Linked DNA regions of Homo sapiens. The protein of the gene in region 1 interacts with the protein of each later gene in a pairwise test. Each region holds a gene or a part of one and is shown on either strand. Other genes may lie near its edges. The genes, in order: FCRL4 and ZNF76.

Region 1 (4,487 bases):
ATCTATTCACAGATATCTTGATGTGATGGTGATGGTCACGATAACTGCCTTCCATCTTAGTGCATGCTCATCTCTCAGTCCTAGAATGATATTCTTTCAGCTTGGATGTTACTTCCTCAGGGAAGCCTCTTATGCATCCCCAGAACTGGGTCAGATTTCCCTCTTAGTGGACTCTCAGAAATTACATACAATTCACTTCTATGTAATTTCCTGTTGACTTGCTGTCTTCTCCACCAGAATGAAAGCTTTCCAAGTCTTGATTAACACTGTACTTCCAGCACCTGGCACCATACCTGAAGCACCATGGTGTTTCTTTTTTTTTGCCATTAACATTTTATATATATATATATATATATATATATATATATATATATATATACACATACATATACACAAGATAATAGCATAAAAAAGTTTTAAAGAGTTATACATACCAAAATATTATACGTACCAAAAAACGTCACTACGGATTTTTCCATTTTTTTCTTAATTTTTTTTTTAAGTTCTGGGATACATGAGCAGAGTGTGCAGGTTTGTTATGGGTAGGGAGAGCATTAGGTGTTTCTCAAAACACCAAACAGCATGTTGCCCAGTGTGAAAGAATCCAAATGGCAAAAATCAAAATTTAATAGAATTATTTAAATACCCACTCTGACTTCCTGACGTGAATCGCTTCTCAAGGCTAAAGCCATCATATTTTCAGAACTCTCTAGCCTCTTGTCTTTCAAGGAAATCACAACTTCTTCTCTCTGCCACCAGATACCAGGCATATGTATTTCAATCAATATATATTTGCCAAGACATTCCTGTAGCAAATTTTGGATTCTAGGACATTAAGTAAAAATGTTATGGCCTATTATCTAGGAAGAGCATGATGGGGCTATAATTTACTCCTCAGCTTGCCTTCTACTCAGATCAAAAGTTGTGGTTTCCCCCTGGACTGATGAGTCAGGATATTTTCATATATATCAGACAAGGTGAGAGTTGTCTTGTGATTGAGATGTTTCATCAGGTCTACAGACGGCCTGCTGGAGGTGTTCCAGTAGAGGTATCAGCGGTCAGAGGAGGCCTTTTCTGTGTTGAATGAGAAATTCTTCATCTCTGGGGATATTCAGGGACATCCTTAGATTATGTGGATTTCAATAGGCCTGCAATCTCACCTCATCTCTAGTAGCAGAGAGAATAGGTTGTGATTTCCTTGAAAGACAGAGCCTAGAGAGTTCTGAAACTAGAGTAGCTTTAGCCTTGAGAAGTGATTCACCCCAGGATGTCACAGCAGTACTTAATTCTATTAAATTTTGATTTTTGTGGTCTGGATTCTCTCACACTGGTCCACATTGCTGTTTGGTGTTTTCAGAAAGATTCCTCTACTTCCCCCTTTCACTTCATTATCTCAATCAGCTTTATGCAGAGAAGAAGCTTACTGAGCTCACTGCTGGTGCTGGTGTAGGCAAGTGCTGCTTTGGCAATCTGGGCTGACCTGGCTTGTCTCCTCAGAACTCCTTCTCCAATCCTGGAGCAGGCTTCCATGCTGCTGTGGGCGTCCTTGCTGGCCTTTGGTAAGTGATGGGGAGGAGACCTTTGCTTGCTGCAAAGCTGAGCCTCACCATGAGCAAAAGCCCTCTTTTCTGCTGCTGCAATCATGGATTTTTACTCCCATTTTAGAACAGCAGAAAATGAACAAAAAGGAAAGATAATGATTTACTGGTAGAAGGGGAAAATGATAATAATTGATTTCCAAAGATGTATTTCTCATCTATTTTTGCTATGAATTGCCTATGGAAAATCATTTTACCCCCAAATGGACTTATTTTGTTTATGCAAAAAGAAACCTATGGCTAGGTTCAGTCCCTACGTCACAGAGCATGAGGACCCAGAGGAAAAGATGGACTGAGTTATTTGTGAAGGATAAAGTCCTGATTGTGAACTCAGGTAGAAAGGATCACCTGCTGAGAATAGTTATTTCCTTCTCTGTATTCTAAGTTCAAACCTGTTCTGATGTTTGCAAAGAGCATGAGAAGAGAAGAGATAAGATGATTTCCCTTTGATTTTTTTCTTCCTGCTTTTGTACCACTTGTCAGTGTTTGTCCAAATGAGGCACGGATTTCCTAGTTGCTCAAACTAGGGAATTAAAGAACAGTCAGTCTTTTGTTCATTAAATATTTATTAAGCGTATTTGTCTAGTTCCCACCTGATCCCCAGACCCCAACTAAGGGAAGACCTATTAGTGTGATTGGCACATGATAGGAACTAAGGAGTGAGTGGATGGGTATACTTGGCATGCCACACTGCTGGGCACCACAGAGGATGCAGAGACCTGAAGGACACAGATTCTGCCCTCAAGAGGTGACATTCTCAATAGAACCTCAACGTACACATGCAAGAACATCTGACTCGACAATATGAGAAAAATATTACACAAATAGTTACAGGATAATGTGTGAGGATGTCAGTTAATTTGTGCTAAGCCCTGGCTACATCCCACTTTTCTAAGGGCACCCCATGTATAAATGTATCCAATTCTCTAACATTTGATCAGGTGGAACTTTTATAACTCCCATTTACAAATGAGGAAATGAAGGCACAAAGATGTTGGTCTTGTCCCTGAGGTTTATGCAGCTAGTACAGTGGCAGAGTCAGGATTCGAACCCATAATCTAACTTTGGAAACTAGGCTTTTAACTACTACCCTCTACTGTCTGTCTCATTTTGAGTTCCAAATTAGCTATGATAATAAGTGTTCTGAGTCAAGAGAAGAGGAATCAGCAGCAGCCCCATACTAAAAAATTAATGACAGCAGCCATTAATTGAAACCTTACTGATCTAACTCATTACAGTATTACTATGAGGTCGCTTTCATGAGCCTCATTTTTCAAATGAGAAAACTGAGACTTGAAAGTTCATGTGGTTTGCCCTGGGTCATACAGCTAAAATTCAAACCAGACTGTCTGAGTCCACAGCCTGAGCGTCTGGCCACTGTGTTTCCCCGCTTCCCTGGGATGGATGGAATGGAACGTGTTTCTCTTCCTCTTGGTTGGAAGTAGCATATGAGTGTATGGGCTCTCAGGGTGAATAGTTCGGGACTCTTCGCCTACGCTGATGGCTGGCTCTTTACTCTCTTTCAGCTCCAGTCTGTGGACAATCTGGTAAGTCCTTATTTTCTTTGCTCCTTTATGTCTCTAGATACCCTAATAACTATATTTTATCTCAAATACTTACAAGAGTCCCTGTTGTCCATTTCATCCTTTTCCTGAGTGCTGCAGGGATGTAGAGACATCAGCTCGTGTGGTGACTCTGACCCTAAGAACCAGGCTATTTGGGGGTGACTCTCTTAAACCAAAACTGCCATTGTGCTGGCTAAACATGGCAGGGCCTGGGATATGTGTCACAGCGTCCACAGGAAGAGGAGCTGTCACCCCGCCTGATGTGGGATTCTAGCCAAGCCTGATGGAATGCATAGCATCCCAAGAGGAAAAGGGTAGAAATAAGCCAATACTTCAGAGGGGGAGGCTGGGGCTCCAGCAGCTTTTCCACTAACCATGTGTAACAAATTTATCCCCAACTTCTGCATCCCATGGAGACACACTTCTCTGTTAATAGCTCAAATTATGATGACTCTGAGTCTCCATCTATCCTACTGGTCAGCAAAAAGTCCCATCCTCTATAGGCAGCTGCCTCACAGGTGTTTTGGCCATTCCTATAGAGCACCCTAGGAGCTGCTGGAGCCAGCAAGGGCCTTGGCCCCCTTGAGGTGCACTGTCTCTTGCAGCTCCTAACTCTGCTGTTCTTCCCCTCCTCGGTGCCTTGGACACAGACTATTTCCCACACACCCTTCCTGAGACAAGATTATAACTTGGCAGACTTTGCTAATGGTTCTAGAATGGGGAAATGAAATACAAAAAGTGCCTTGAATTAACTGCAGCTAGGGATGTGGTTAACCTCAGAGCCCATCAACTCAGTCTCAAACACACGAAGGCCATGAAAAGTTATGTCCCTTCCTGGCCATAGGGCCACCTGCACATAGCAGGGGCAGCTTCCTCAGAGCAAAGAAGAGTCTAGTTGCATACATCAAAGGAAATCAACTCTCCTTCCCTCCAGTAGAAGACCTATTGCCTAAGTCCCAATGGCCCTGCATCCAGGTGCTTCCCAGGAATATAGCTGGTAGGGTTTTCTATTCTCTTCAGCAGAAACACAGCCCCATTCCCACTGATGACATAGAGTATTCTGTCCAAACCTTTAAAGACAGAATTTTCTTTTTAAAAAGTGTCTGCAGAGGCTGGGCACAGTGGCTCATGCCTGTAATCCCAGCACTTCGGGAGGCTGAGGTGGGTGGATCACTTGACGTCAGGAGCTCAAGACCAGCCTGGACAACATGGTGAAACCTCATCTCTACTGAAAATACAAAAAATTAGCCGGTTGTGGTGGCACATGCCTGTAATCCCAGTTACTCAGGAGGCTGGGGCAGGAGAATCACTTGAACCCAGGAGG
Region 2 (3,500 bases), on another chromosome or scaffold:
CAGAACCCCAAGTACTGATGCCCTTGCCAGGACAGATAAATTGTTAAAATGAGGGTAGCCTACTGCTCTGTGGGTGGGAGGGAAGAAAATGGGTTCATCTTCCCCCCATCTCAGCTGCCTTTCCTATTTCTTACCTTTATCTCCACCTTACCTGCCTTTGGTTAGTTGTAGGACTGTTAGTTACTGACCCCAAGAAGACTCAGTTTGGGAGCAAGTTTGGGGATTCCTCTAAAGGGGAGACGTCAGCAGAGACTTGGGCTGGAAGTAACTGTCTTTCCCACCTGAGCGCTCAGTTTCCTAAACCTCAATCTTCTAAGGAAAGGACAAATCACTTGTCATTAACTTTTTTTTTATTTTTTCTTCCTTTTTTTTTTTGAGACGGAGTCTCACCCTGTAGCCCAGGCTGGAGTGCAGTGGCGTGATCTCGGCTCACTGCAACCTTCGCCTCCCGGGTTCAAGCGATTCTCCTGCCTCAGCCTCCCGAGTAGCTGGGACTATAGGCATGTGCCATCACGCCTGGTTAATTTTTTTGTATTTTTAGTAGAGACACGGTTTCATGATGTTGGCTAGACTGGTCTCGAACTCCCGACCTCAGGTTATCCGCCTGCCTCAGCCTCCCAAAGTGCTGGGATTATAAGTGTGAGCCACCACACCCAGCCTTACTTTTTTGTTTTTTCTTTTTGAGACAGGACCTCACTCTGTCACCCAGGCTAGAGTGCAGTGGTACAATCTCAGCTCACTGCAACCTCCGCCTCCCGGGTTCAAGTGATTCTCCTGCCTCAGCCTTCCGAGTAGCTGGGACGACAGGTACCTGCCTCCACACCCAGCTAATTTTTTTGTATTTTTAGTAGAGACAGGGTTTCACCATGTTGGTTAGGCTGGTCTCAAACTCCTGACCTCAGGTGATCTGCTCGCCTTGGCCTCCCAAAGTGCTGGGATTACAGATGTAAGCCACCGTGCCCAGCCTTTTTATTTATTTATTTTTTATTTTTTTCAGACAGGGTCTTACTCTGTCACCCAGGCTGGACTGCAGTGGCATAATCACGGCTTACTGCAACTTCTGCCTCCTGGGCTCAAGCAATCCTCCCACCTCAGCCTCCCGAGTAACTGGGACCACAGGCATGCACTACTACATCCAGTTAATTTTTGTGTTTTTTGTAGAGACAGGGTTTTGTCACATAGCTCAGGCTGGTCTCAAACTCCTGAGCTCAAGCGATCCACCCGCCTTGGCCTCCCAAAGTGTTGGGATTATAGGCATGAGCCACCGAATCTGACCATCATTAACTCTTCAATCTCCCTTTCTTTCCTTTCTCATTTCTCTTCTTCCTTCCCCCTCTGTCAGACTCACTGGACACAAGGAAGGGTCGTCTAGTTCTAATTTCAAGAGCCTTATTAGAAGTGCTTTCCAGTAAGGTAAAGGAAGAGTAATATCTTAGGAAATCTGGAGGCTTGTTAATTTTTATGCTGCTTGTTGTGTTGCCTTAGGTGATCTAATTTTTTACTAGAAAATTGAAATGAAAAATGAGAGGTCAATGAAGGAACATTACTCAACAGTGGCAGTGGAATAAGACCTTCATGGACACATAATAGCATAATAGTTGTGCTCACATAGTTCTCTATTGCTTTACTTTCCATTTCTTCTAAAATGCATATTGGGCTTATAATAAAAGCTAGGATTTATTGAGGGCTGACCATATATACCTGGCACTCTTCCCAGTTTTTTATATTCGTTAACTCATTTAACCCTAACAGCAACCCTATAAGAGACACAGTTTTCAATCCCCATTTTAAGAAAAGGAAACTGAGGCACAGAGAGGTTAGTTAAATAAGCTGTCCAAGGTCACACAGCTGTTAAGAGGTAGAGCTGGAATTCAAACTCTGGAGGCCTGGCCTGGTTCCAGAGTCTATTGTTTTTAACCATTAAGCTATATATCCTGCCTTCACAGGGGCTCCTGGTCTTAGCACACTGTCATAGTGAGGGATGAGGGGATATGTTTTGATTTTGTTAGTTTGAGCTATATCTGAATTTTGACCCACTGGGGCTCATCCAGGTTTAAGGGCCATTAGTTCAAGTCTCAGCAACTTACTATTAGGTTGGAAGTTTCCACTTGGCTGGGCATGGGTAGAATAATAAGTGAAGTTATTCCTCCTGTTAGTAACTGGAAGGGAATCTGTTGGGAGGTGATGGGTTCGGCAAGGCAAGTGTCTTCACCCTTAGTGTCTCAAGGCCCAGGCCCAGGGAGACAGAGCAAGGGAACAAGGAAGATGTTACCCATGCTTAGACCTGCAGGCTCGTGCCTAGAGACTCAAATAAGCCTCAGCTAAAAACAGGCAGGCGTTTCTTAGCCCTCTTCTGGTCCTGGCCCATTTCTCTCTATTTCCACTCTTAACAGGAGAGAAGCTTCTTGAAGGGCAGGTGATCCAGCTCGAGGATGGGACCACCGCATACATTCACCAGGTGACGGTACAGAAAGGTGAGGGCACCCCAACACACCATGCCTTGTCGAGGGAAGCCTGACAGCCCCCACCAAGGGACCCCTCCATGGCACTGAGCTCCAGGGAAAGGCAGGCATTGCTCTCGTTACAGAAGCTCTCTCCTTTGAGGATGGTCAGCCTGTGCAGCTGGAAGATGGCAGCATGGCTTACATACACCGCACACCCAGAGGTAGGGTCACCATCATCACAACTCGGGGAAGGATGGGAGGCAGGACTGGAGGATGGGGTGGCAGGACTGGAGGATGGGATGGCACACAACTGGGGTGTAGACATGGGAGCTGTCATCTCCATGGTACACACATGCTCACCTGGATTAGCAGCCTTGCCCACCTTCCCTGGTGCAGACCACAGGAGCAGCTATGTCTGCAACTGGGAGGTGAGCCTTGGAGATCAGTGACGTGGACTTTGATGGTGGCCTTGGCTCCAGCACAGCCACAAAGTCTTAGGGCTTTAAATAGGACCCGAGGATATCATCCAAGACCAGGAAAAAAAACTAATATTTTAGAATGAAGCTCCTAAGGTGCTGAAGAATAACAATTTATTCCTTCCGCAGGTGGTTTCTTGAGTGACTGTTGCATGCCTGGCGTTGTGTTAGGTGTGCAGTATACAAGACAGAACAAAGTCAGACACAGTCCCCGCTCTCCTAGAGTCTAGAGGGGGAAACAGAAGTGAAACAAGCCATCAGTGATGAACTGATCATTACAAACAGAGATCAGGCTCAGGGAGGGCTTCTCTGAGGTAGTGATGCTTGAGCTGAGAGGTAAAGAATGAGGTAGACTTAGCTGGGGGAAGAGGGATGGCAGGGAGGGTTCAGTACTTCAGGCAGAAGGAATAGCATGTGCAGGCCTAGAGCTGGGGGGAAGAAAGAACAGCACATTCCAGGAACTGCTAGGAGCTAGAGCCCTGGGAGTGAAGGCAGAATGAGCAGGAGGAAACTGGAGAGAGAAAGACAGGGCTGGTGCACTCTGGGTTTGAGTGTCAGGGTGAGGATTTTGGTCTTTATC

What was found.
Region 2: the proteins of FCRL4 (region 1) and ZNF76 interact in binary tests that used the Homo sapiens proteins (3 or more experiments, as listed by UniProt).

The regions. Positions count from the first base shown.
Region 1 is NC_000001.11:157,594,986-157,599,472, reverse strand, and holds the start of FCRL4 (Fc receptor-like protein 4 precursor), read left to right. Parts: upstream 1-1,387; 5' UTR 1,388-1,528; coding exon 1,529-1,559; intron 1,560-3,124; coding exon 3,125-3,145; intron 3,146-4,487. UniProt on the Homo sapiens protein: May function as an inhibitor of the B-cell receptor signaling. May function in the B-cell-mediated immune response.
Region 2 is NC_000006.12:35,283,735-35,287,234, forward strand, and holds part of ZNF76 (zinc finger protein 76), read left to right. Parts: intron 1-2,391; exon of another isoform or gene 2,392-2,393; coding exon 2,394-2,474; intron 2,475-2,587; coding exon 2,588-2,665; intron 2,666-2,696; exon of another isoform or gene 2,697-3,240; coding exon of another isoform or gene 3,241-3,256; intron 3,257-3,500. UniProt on the Homo sapiens protein: May be involved in transcriptional regulation.